2 separate regions of the Homo sapiens genome follow, and region 2 is linked to region 1. The links come from fine-mapping of genetic effects on gene expression. Tissue or cell type: whole blood. Region 1 holds a variant in brackets; the other region holds the start of a gene. All regions are shown on one strand. Distances are between the middles of the regions.

Region 1 (5,377 bases):
GGCCAGTATGTGGAGAAACTGGAACCCTCATACATTGCTAATGGAGTGTAAAATGGTGCAGCCACTGTGGAAAACAGTTTGGACTTCCTCAGTAAGTTAAACATAGAATTACCACAAGACCTAGCAATTCCACACCCACGTGTATACCCAAAAAGTGAAAATAGGTGTTCAAACAAAAACTTATACATGCATGTTCGTGGCAGCTCCACTCACACAGCCAAAAGGTGGAAGGGACCTAAATGTCTATCAACTGATTACTGGATAAACAAGGCTGTTATATCCATACAATGGAATGTTATTCGGTCATTTAAAAAAAATGGAAGTTATGCAGTAAGATACACACAACAACACGGATAAGCCCTGAAAACATTATACAGTGAAAAGTCATTTTTTATTATTTCACTCATATGAAAGAGACTGAATAAACAAATCCATAAAGACAAAAAATAGATTAGTGGCTGCAAGCGGATACAGAGAAAAGAATAGGAAGTGGCTCCTCAATGGGTACAGGTTTCCTTTTGGGGTAATAAGAATGTTCTCAAACTAGACAGTGATGACTGCATAACACTGACTGTACTAAACACCACTGAATGATTTACTTAAAAATGGTTAAAATGGTTTAAAATGGTGTATTGTGTAAGTATTATACCATAATTTAAAAATAAAACTCTGCCTGTGGGTGTACAACATTTTTAACTTGAACTTAATTACTATAACTTTTTCTACCTCTTTTGGCTTTTATGTATACCATAGATCATATTATAGGTATGTCAAAATATTAAACATTTACTGAACACTTGCTACACTGCTACAAACAAGATGTATGCTAGCAACTTTTTTTGAATTTCAGTTAAATCCTTAAAAAAAACTATAAGGTAGGTAGGTATTATCATTCCCATCTTATGCTTAAGAAACCATGGCTAAGAGAAATGAGGCAACTTAACTAATAAGTGGTACACCCTAACCCTAACATTTTTAAGATTAACTCAAATATAAAAGGGAATAAGCTAAATGATTTCTAAGGTAACTTCCAGCAATACAACTCTATGAATATGCCACATTTTAAAAAACACCTTCCGCAAAATGTCCTGACAATAGCTTTCCAGTGAAATATATGAACAGAAAGTCAGCACTAGTCCTAAAAGATCTTTAGTATGACACATGTTAGCATTTCTTTCCCTCTACCAGTATAAGATATTAATTATTAATTACCTTACTGGTTACCATTTCCAGAGAACCCAAAAGGTCCAAGGTGATTGTCACCAAATTTCAAAGTATATCATGAAAGGTGGGTAGCAGAGAAACTGACTATATGTAAACACCTACAGAAAGGAAATTATTAAAAAACACAGATTCCTAGGCCCCACCCCAGGATCTAGTGAATGAAAATCGTTGGGTCAATGCCCAAGAGTGCTTACATTTTCTTAAAAGTCCAAGTGGTCAGCCCAGTTTGGGAATTGCCACAGGAAAGTAAAATTTATATTTTGTCAAACAGGACATACAAGCCAGTCCAACTATACTGACTTTGGAGTACAAGAGTATAGGATTTATAATCTAGTTATGATGTCAGACCTTTTTACTGTACACTGACATTTCAAAGGACATGATTCTACCCAAAGATACTTGAATCTTTGCATTGATTCATTCATGATACTCAACATACCAAATTGTACTTATATTACCTTTAAGAAATATTTTAGTGATCAATTCCAACTGCTCATACACATAAATGTATTATATGAAATACACACACGTACACACTAGAAGCCTTACACAACATGTAGCAGGGTTCCTGACAATCTAACCCCAAATAGTTTTTAAATAAACAAGCACAAGTAAATCCAACATTGACTGACATCCACATTATGTGCCAGGCACTGTTCTAGGCGCTGTGAATATAGCCAAGAATAAGACACATTCTCACAATACTTATTATTAGCAGGGACATGAGTCACTAAGCAGGCTACTATGGAAATAATCACCCCTCTTCATCATTTTCCTTATTTTGCTTTTAGAAGTGAACATTCTGCTTCATCCTTCCCTAGGTCATTATATAATTCTTGCTTTGTCGTATCAATCCCTTTAAATTCCAGTTTTCATTATACATGGGGAAAATGTACAGCCAGGCAGCCTCTGTCACTATTTCAAAGCAACTGGAAAATCCCAGAATCCACATTTTCATTGGGCTGAGACTTTCCAATATGCCTAATAATGATACTTTATGACCTGGAAGTTCCAATGAATTGGTAGTAAGAAAACATTGATTTGCTTCAGTGGCACTGTGATTGGAATGGTGATTAAATGCATCATGTTAAATTTACCCTGGGCCTTTTCCAGTATAGCAAATATAAAATGAGCTATCAGCATCAGCAGAGCCTAAACCACTCCTTCCTTCTAAAACGGTACTTCTGCTGCATGTCAAAGGTGATATGATGGAACTTCGCCCATTAATAATCAGGTGGCATAACATGACAAACTGTATACACCCACATAGGCTTCCACAGGATGTACACTGCCCAACATGGTTTATTCTATTTAGCAACTTGGGACAACCTTATGTATGTCAGAGCAGCACATTTGCACCACTATAGTTAATGGTCTGTCAGCATTTCCATTATAAAGCAATTTTCAAAGGTTTATTGCTCAGCTGAAGAATCTGCTCTGAGCTGAAATTTGGCATTCCAGAAAAGCAAAAACTGTAGGCTATAGTTATTTATTCCTTTCCAAGCAGGCCAAGTAGTTTGTTTCTTTTTAAAGAAAATCTGTCCCTTTATTTCAGAATTTCGTCATATTGCCCTTTGAGAATATCCACAGAACAAAAACCTCTCACCTCATAAAGGGACTATTGTTTAGAATAGCAGCTAGCAACTTACAAGGTACAGAGGATAGATTCCAACTTATTTATGGAAAACAATTTTTAAAAAGCAAGCACATTTTTATGAATTGCACGTTTAAAATTTTCATCAGTCCTACCTTAGTTATGATTAAATTATTCATGCTATTAGAGC[G/A]CGTGCTCTGCCACTGATGACTTTGAAATTCTCAATTGTTAAACCTCCTTTATCTCTCCCACCCAAGAACCACAGACCACTGACCTAGGGTCAATGTTACATACTCTTGCTATTCCATCTTACTCTACTAAACGGAATATGCGCTGTAAGTAAAAGCTTGGTAGCAAGAAAGGTGATACAGTAGATAGGAGACGCTTTGACAGTAATTTAGAAAATTCAGAAAATGGATGATTAGCCCCTGAATGATGAAGTTCCCAGAAAACCAATGTGGTAATCTAGATGACCAGTAAATTAGTGATAAACAATTTTATTCAATCTCTGGAAACTGTTCTACTAGTCTGAAAGCTTGCCAGAATATTTCACGTGTCAAAGAAGAAATTAAATATTCCTATATATTTTGTTGGTGACTCTAACTAGAAAGCTTAAATATTTACACCTTAAATTATAGGATTTTTCAATTATACAGGTAATTATAATTCTGATACAAGTCTACCCAATAAATAAAGAAGTTTTAACACAAAATTGGTTTTCTAAGCTTAAAAATTCTCATTATGTACCAATAAAGACTCTCAAAACTTTCAAGACTGGTGATCAAAGCAACCTTTTAAAAATGAATACTTTTTAGAGAAGTGTAAGGATCCATCCTAAATTACTGCACACAGCTTGACATGCTTTGCCAATTTTCCAGCTTTATGTTACTCTGAAATTATTACTATTTAAAATCATCTATGAAACTACTTCCAAACTAAGTAACAACATAGGGTAATGTTTGTAAAATGTTAAGTAAATGGGACATGGCCAGTGCAGTTGCTCATGCCTATATATAGTCCCAGCTACCTGGGAAGCCGAAGCAGGAGAATCACCTGAGCCCAGGAATTCAAGTCCAGCCTGGACAATATAGTGAGACATCATCTCTTAAAAAAAAAAAAAAAAAAAAAAAGTAAGTAAAAGAAGCTTGCTGCTGCATCTCTATCTGAAAAGAAAAAGTCTACATTCAATTAAAATTACTTTTTTAAAAAAGGAAATGGGATCTAATTCATGATTACAGCTATTGGAAACAGATGTGGAAGCAACAGACAAGAACTAGAAGGGTCTAACACACCTGAAAAGATATGAACAACATTTTCTTTTATAATTTTTACTAACGTTATATTTGTTTTGTTTGTTTGGTGGTGGTGGTGGTGTTTTGAGACAGGGTCTCACTCTGCCACTCAGGCTAGAGTGCATGGCAGGCTAGAGTGCAGTGGTATCATCTCAGCTCACCACAGCCGCAGCCTCAACCTCTTGGGCTCAAGCAATCCTCCTTCCTCAGCCCCCCGAGTGCCTGGGACTACAGGGATGTGCCACTATGCCCAGCTAATTTTTGTATTAAAAATACAAAATACAATAATTTTGTATTTTTTGTTTCACCATGTTGCCTCGGCTGGTCTTGAACTCCTAGGCTCAAGCAATCCTCCTGGCTTGGCCTCCCAATGTCCTGGGATTACAAGAGTAAGCCACTGTACCTGGCCATAATGCTATTATATTCATTTTATAACAAATATTTTATATTCAGATTCCAAATTAACCCCACCTTTACCCTTTGCAGGCAGTATCTATACTTTCCAAATATACAAATACAAACGCTGAATTTAAAAACAGAATTACCAGAGGACACTCAACAAACTAACAGAATATTTAAAATTAACCCTCAACAGCTACAAGTGTTACATGTCAATTGGTTTTATATACAGCACCAGAGAACCAAGTAAGGAATTAAATTACTTTTGTCTTTTGCAATTTTGTTAAAGGCCTCAGCAAGAAGGTCTCTCCAGTACTTAACCTAAGCACCTGTGAATCCCTTCAGCTTTTGTGAGAGAAACCTCAAGTCAGTCTGCTAGTGGTTCAGATGCAGCAAACAGAACATGGAAGTGAGTATCAAACCTTCACTCAACCTCACTGCTTTCATTCAAAAGGCTGAAGCCCCTCTAAAAGGCTTAACTGAAACATACTGGAAGTTAGTAATTGATGATTTCATTTCCATATTAGAAAGACAAACACATCCTTTTTTTGTTGTTATTGAAACATGGTCTCACTCTGTCACCCAGGCTGGAGCACAGTGGCACAATGTCGGCTCACTGCAGCCTCAATCTCCTGGGCTCAAGCAATCCTCCTCCTACCTCAGCCTCCTGATGAGTAACTAGGACTACAGGTGTGTGCCACCACGTCTCGCTAATTTTTGTATTTTTCAAGAGAAGGGTTTTCACCATGTTGCCCAGGCTGGTCTCGAACTTCAGTTCAAGTGTCGGGATTACAAGCGGGAGCCACCACACCTGGCCAACACAGCCTTGTTCATGATTTAAAATAACAGTAAAAGGTTTTTCTGGATT
Region 2 (5,377 bases), 84 kb after region 1:
GTGTCACTTTCTCCAGGCTACTTTCCTCTACCTCCACCCCAGCTAGGGTAGGTGCCCCTCCCCTAGAGCACCTGTACAACGTATTGCAACTGTCAGTTTACTTCCCTGTGCCCCCTGCCCCAGAGTATGGGGCCAGCACCTCCTTGCCCACCATTATATCACAGGCATTCAAATATCTGTTAAATATATTCTAAGTTTACTCAGTGAACAAAATATGAATGTGGCCCATACAGTAAGGGAAACATGTCCAAAGTCAGTTGTGATACGATGGAAACAAGGCGGCAATGTTGCTATGCTTTGGTATAAAATACAAACTACACAATTGTCTACAAACGTCCTTAGGAAAGGTTAAAACATTGCACCAAAAAGAACACTTTTCACGATAAAAATACTAGTTTTGTGGTCACTACTCCTGCTAGGTAAACTGAAGTTCATAAAAAGTATCAGACTGAAAATATCTAAAAAGAAGCCCTGGTTGCTTATAGGTCAAGTACAACATTAGTGTAACTTTTCCTGTCTGCTGCCACCAAACTCTATTGGCATTATCAGAACCCTACCGGCTAAAGGTAAAAGGCTGGCCGGGCGCGGTGGCTCATGCCTGTAATCCCAGCACTTTGGGAGTCCAAGGCAGGCAGATCACCTGAGGTCAGAAGTTTGAGACCACCTTAGCCAACATGGCAAAATCCCGTCTCTCCTAAAAAACACAAAAATTAGCCGGACATAGTGGTGTGCACCTGCAGTCTCAGCTACTTGGGAGGTTGAGGCAGGAGAACTGCTTGAACCCGGGAGGTGCAGGCTGCAGTAAGTCGAGATCACGCCACTGCACTCCAGCCTGGGCAACAGAGCAGGGCTCCGACTCAAAAATAAATAAATAAATAAAGGTAAAAGGCTATTCCATTTCCTTAGTTTCTAAGCCTTGATATAAGTCTTTCGATAAAGATTCCATTCATGGTAACAGTCCGAAGGACATAAACGTGTTGCCAGGAAAGAGACCTGATACATCCTGAGCATTAGCTGCCACTGGCAGCGACTTTCTTTAGGACATATGTCTTACAATGAGTTACAATCTGAGGCTTGTGACACAAGATTTTTCCAGGGCAGCAGACTGATACCATAAACATGATGGTACTACGCACTCTAAAGAGCTCACCAGCTCCACCCTACACTCCCTGTGTGAAGCGGCAAATTATCCACCCAAAGCCTCAGTTTCCCCAGCTAATAATGAGATAATGGTTCCTACCTCGCAAGATTCTTGTGGGAATTAGACAGTCCATGAAAGCACTTCACAGGCAAACCAATTATTTTCAAATCAAAATGAAGGGAAGACTAGAAATATTTTCACATTTTTAGGACTTTTTATATGCCACAACTTATTTTTGACTAATGTCCTTCCACAGGGAAATTTTTGAGAAAGGCAGAAAAATGAGAAAATGAAAATCCACTTCTTTGTCATAACCTTGAGATACGACAACTTCCACAGAAGTCTACATTAAGATCCACTTTCTAATCTTTCTCTGCACTCCCAAAATTACTCTTAATTTCTGTTAACCATTCCTACAATATGGGAGATAGCAAAGGGAAAACTACTTCCATACTTCTTCCCAAGATGTCCTCACCAGAAACAATCTTCCTTCCTGCCTCTATGTCTCCAAATATACGGAATCTCTCAAAAAATAAAACTAAAACAAAACGATAAAAGAGAAAAGGGACTCAAATCACAAAAGCCAGCCTTCAAAGTCTCCAGCTTTCTTACTGCAGAACTACAGTCATGTGGTATGATGGAGGCACCTGTTAGGTGGCAATCCATGAAGCTTAAAGTGTTACCAGGAGAATTTAAACAGTAATGGGGGGAGGAAGAGGAGCTGATTTCCCACCTCACATTTTTTTCGCCTTAACACATGATGGCCAAACAATATATGCTACCCACTGTCAACATTTTTATCATTTTTACTTAAATTGAGAAAGAGGAGAATTTGAGAGCCAACTGAGGAAACTGGATCTCATATTCCCCAATCCAGGCTGACTTCAGGTTTTGTGTGGTTTTTTTCTTCCTTTTTGACAAGGAAATTTTACATATCTCCTGAAACGTGTTTTACATGAAGGTGAGACCTCAACAATCTTATAACTTTACCCCAGCCTGGTTCTGGACTCGGTTTTTACAAACGGGTGACGTGTGAATAGCTTCCTAAAAGCAAATGGGGCACTGGGATATAATCTAGGAAGTGATGATGCAAGTCTCCGGAGGACGGGGAGGAGGGGAGGTGAAGAAGTCAGAGGAAATACCCTCCTAGTGCCTGGGCACCAACTCACGCCCCGGGAGGGAGGAAGGGCTGGCTTCCACATGCCCACGGAAGGGGCACCCCTGCTCCTCCCGGAGCGGTCAACGCCGCCCCCTCATCCCTCCCCGCCGCCCTGCCCCCCTCACCCGTGGCCCAGGAGGCCCCCGTGGGCCCGAGCTTCAGGCCGGCGAGTCCCAAAGGGTAGCAACGCACCCCCGGCAGGGCCTTCTCTGCCCACCCCCAGCTCCCCACCCGGCACCCCTCCCCGGAACGCGACCCCCACCCCCTCCCCGTAGGCCCGGGCTGGGCCCAGCCTCCAAGGTTCCGGCCTCCCGGGCCCCGAGGCCTGCCCAGGCTGCCCTGGCGTCTGCGCCCCCGGCCCCCGCCCCCCGCCCCCACCCGGCCGGGCACTTACCCCCAGAAGCCGCAGGGACAGCGAGGCGGCAGGCTGGGCGCTTTGCTGCGCTCGCTCCCAGCGTCTCCCATGGTGCTCGGCGGCGGCGGAGCTCGGCGGCGGCAGCGGTGGCGGCGGCTGGGCCCGGGCCCCGCTCTGAGGAGGCGGTGGCGGCGGCGTCGGGGGGCTCGGGGCGGGGGGAGGGGGAAGGAGCGGGCGCGCGGGCGGGCGCGAGTCCGGGGCTCGGAGCCGGGATTCCAGGCCGGTCAGCTGGAGGCGGGCCGCACCACTCGGCCTGCGGAGACGGGGAGGGGGCGGAGAGGCGCGGAGAGAAGAAGGAGGGAGCCGAGGAGGAGGGGCGTGCGGACGCACCGAGGACCGCGGGGGAGGAGGGACACAGACGCCCTCGGCGGGTCTCACCGCCGCTCCCCAGCCAGAGAGATGTCCTGTGCGGTGGCGCAGGGAAGGACCGGAGCCCCCCGCCGGCTCCGGAGTCGCAGCGGCCGCTCTGAAGCCCCGGGCCCTGCTGTCTCCGTAACACCGTCCCCTCCCCCGGAGGCTGCGCTGACCGGACAATGGCCGCTCCGCCCCCTCCCCGGCGTGCGCCCCTCCCGAGGAGTCACAATGGTCTCGCCCGGGGGAGCCAACGCCAAAGCCCAGCCGCTGATCAGCTGGGATCCGGGCGTGCCACTTCGTTCCGCGCCTCAAAGGCGGAGTGCGGGGCTGTGGGAGAAAACGAGAGCCTCGGGCTGTCGCCCGGCGACGGGCGGCTGAGGCCTTCGTATTCTTAGAACTTTTAGAATCTGAAGCAAACTTATCTTCCCCCTGTCTGAAGAAGGGGAGCAGGTTTCTGAGTACTCCGGGGCGCGGTGCCTCCCCCTAAACGCGAATGGTGCGCTCCAAGCGGGAGGGGGAGGAGCAGATTAGTTGTGTAGGGTAAATTGGGCCAGTCCCAGAGTGGCGGCGCATGCGCCCGTAGAACCCGTAACCGAGTGCGAGGAGGGGCCTGGGGGAGCAATGCCAAACGCGGAAGTGGAGCTCTGGCTTCCCGGGGGCGTCGGAGTCAAGGTCCCTGGAGCTGCCGCTCTGGCTCCTGGGCGATTCCGGGGAGCCATTCTCCCCAATTTGCCAACTCCCTGGGCATCTCTCTCTCTCTTCCTGGTCCCGCCACACCCAAACAACTCTTATAGTTCCACCCGGTATACTGGTCTCTTGACAGGAACTTTTGGGAAATGCCCCTCCCCCAGCCCCTTGTCTGGGGCAACTTCCTTGTCTCTTCTCCCCCACCGGTGTTGGGGAGTTCCTTGTCTCCACTCCCAACCACAGAGCCACAAGTACATTATCTATGCCCAGGCGAGTCCCTATGCCCAGGCTAGGAGAGCCGCACTTCTTCCTACAGCTGACACGTTTGGTTTTTGGAGGGGAAAGGGGAGCTGTAGCTGAATCAGTAATGGAAATTGGTAAGTGACCAAAGAAGTTTGAGACACTAAAAAAATGAGTCCTTTAACGATCCTAGTCCTTGATCCTGAGCTCATTCTGATCTCCAGTTAGTCATGAACAGAGAAATCGATTATTGATGACTAATTCAACACGGAGGCAACATCCTCCAGACCTTTTGGAGACCCATCGCTGAGGAAGACTTCCTGGCTCTTAGGAATAGCTGCCGTATACCCTCCTTGCCTGTCGGGTATATCAGAGCCTCAGAGAGACTATTACCTAGATTAATTTGATTACCAAATGTTGCTATCTTATTTCTTTATATACCAAATCACATTTCTGTTTGTGCATACTGTGTGGGTTTGTTAACATTGATGTTTATTTTGGCCTCTAAAGAGCAAGGATCGCATTTAGCTTAATATGCCACAGATGCTGTTGATGGTGAAGTTAATGATTGCAAAAATCAAGCACTTAAAGCCAAAACACCCTAAAATGTGAGTGCTGATTTATTATGCACAATGTTTAGTTTTAATTTGGTGGATTTTCCAAAGCCTTCAATAAGTATATCTGTAAGAAAGTGCATAGAAAAAGCCGGACGCTGTGGCTCACGTCTGTAATCCCAGCACTTTGGGAGGCCAAGACGGGTGGATCACCTGAGGTCAGGAGTTCGAGACCAGCTTGGCTAACATGGTGAAACCCCGTCGCTAGTTAAAAAAAAAATACAAAAACTTAGCCGGGCATGGTGGCACGCGTGTAATCCCAGCTACTTGGGAGGCTGAGGCAGGAGAATCGCTTGAACCCGGAGGGCGGGTGTTGCAGTGAGCCGAGATCATGCCATTGCACTCCAGCCTGGGCAACAAGAGCGAGAGCGAAACTCTGTCTCAAAAAAAGAAAGAAAGAAAGAAAAAATGCATAGAAAGGATAAAGCCATACAGCACACCTTGCTCTCATTGGATTCATATTACCCTTAAATCTTCATTTAAGCCGACATAAAATTCCCACATGCGTGAGATACTTAACAGCCTTTGAGTTTAACAAAGATTAAGTGGGATTATCTCTCTTGGCATCTTGATGATTTTCTTTTATGTACAGAAAAGGAAACTCGACAACTAAAAGGAGAATTCAACATAAAAAGTGATTGTCATTTTCCAAACTGCTTTCCTGTTTGCCAGTTATTCAACAAACATTTATTCAGTACCCAGTATACACAAGGACTTTGCTAAGCACTCTGGAGACTAAAAGGATTAATAAAATGTAGCATTCACCA

The links. PIP is the estimated chance that this variant, and not a neighbour inherited with it, causes the effect.
Region 2: it holds the start of ZFAND3, and the variant in region 1 is fine-mapped to the expression of ZFAND3 in whole blood (TOPMed, PIP 0.91).

Annotation. Positions count from the first base shown.
Region 1 is chr6:37,901,309-37,906,685 of GRCh38, reverse strand. The region is part of intron 1 of ZFAND3 (zinc finger AN1-type containing 3); the gene reads right to left. Among named protein-coding and RNA genes, the nearest start is that of ZFAND3, 84 kb to the right of the region's middle. The variant G/A (reference allele first, on the strand shown) is at 3,009.
Region 2 is chr6:37,817,334-37,822,710 of GRCh38, reverse strand. ZFAND3 (zinc finger AN1-type containing 3) reads right to left here and starts at 2,984. Exons shown (of 6, transcript NM_021943.3): 1 at 2,695-2,984. The coding sequence starts at 2,765. ZFAND3-DT (ZFAND3 divergent transcript) reads left to right here and starts at 3,324. Exons shown (of 2, transcript XR_007059569.1): 1 at 3,324-4,133; 2 at 4,221-5,377. RefSeq lists silencers at 2,358-2,527, 2,688-2,917, 2,958-3,337 and enhancers at 2,616-3,418, 3,388-3,777.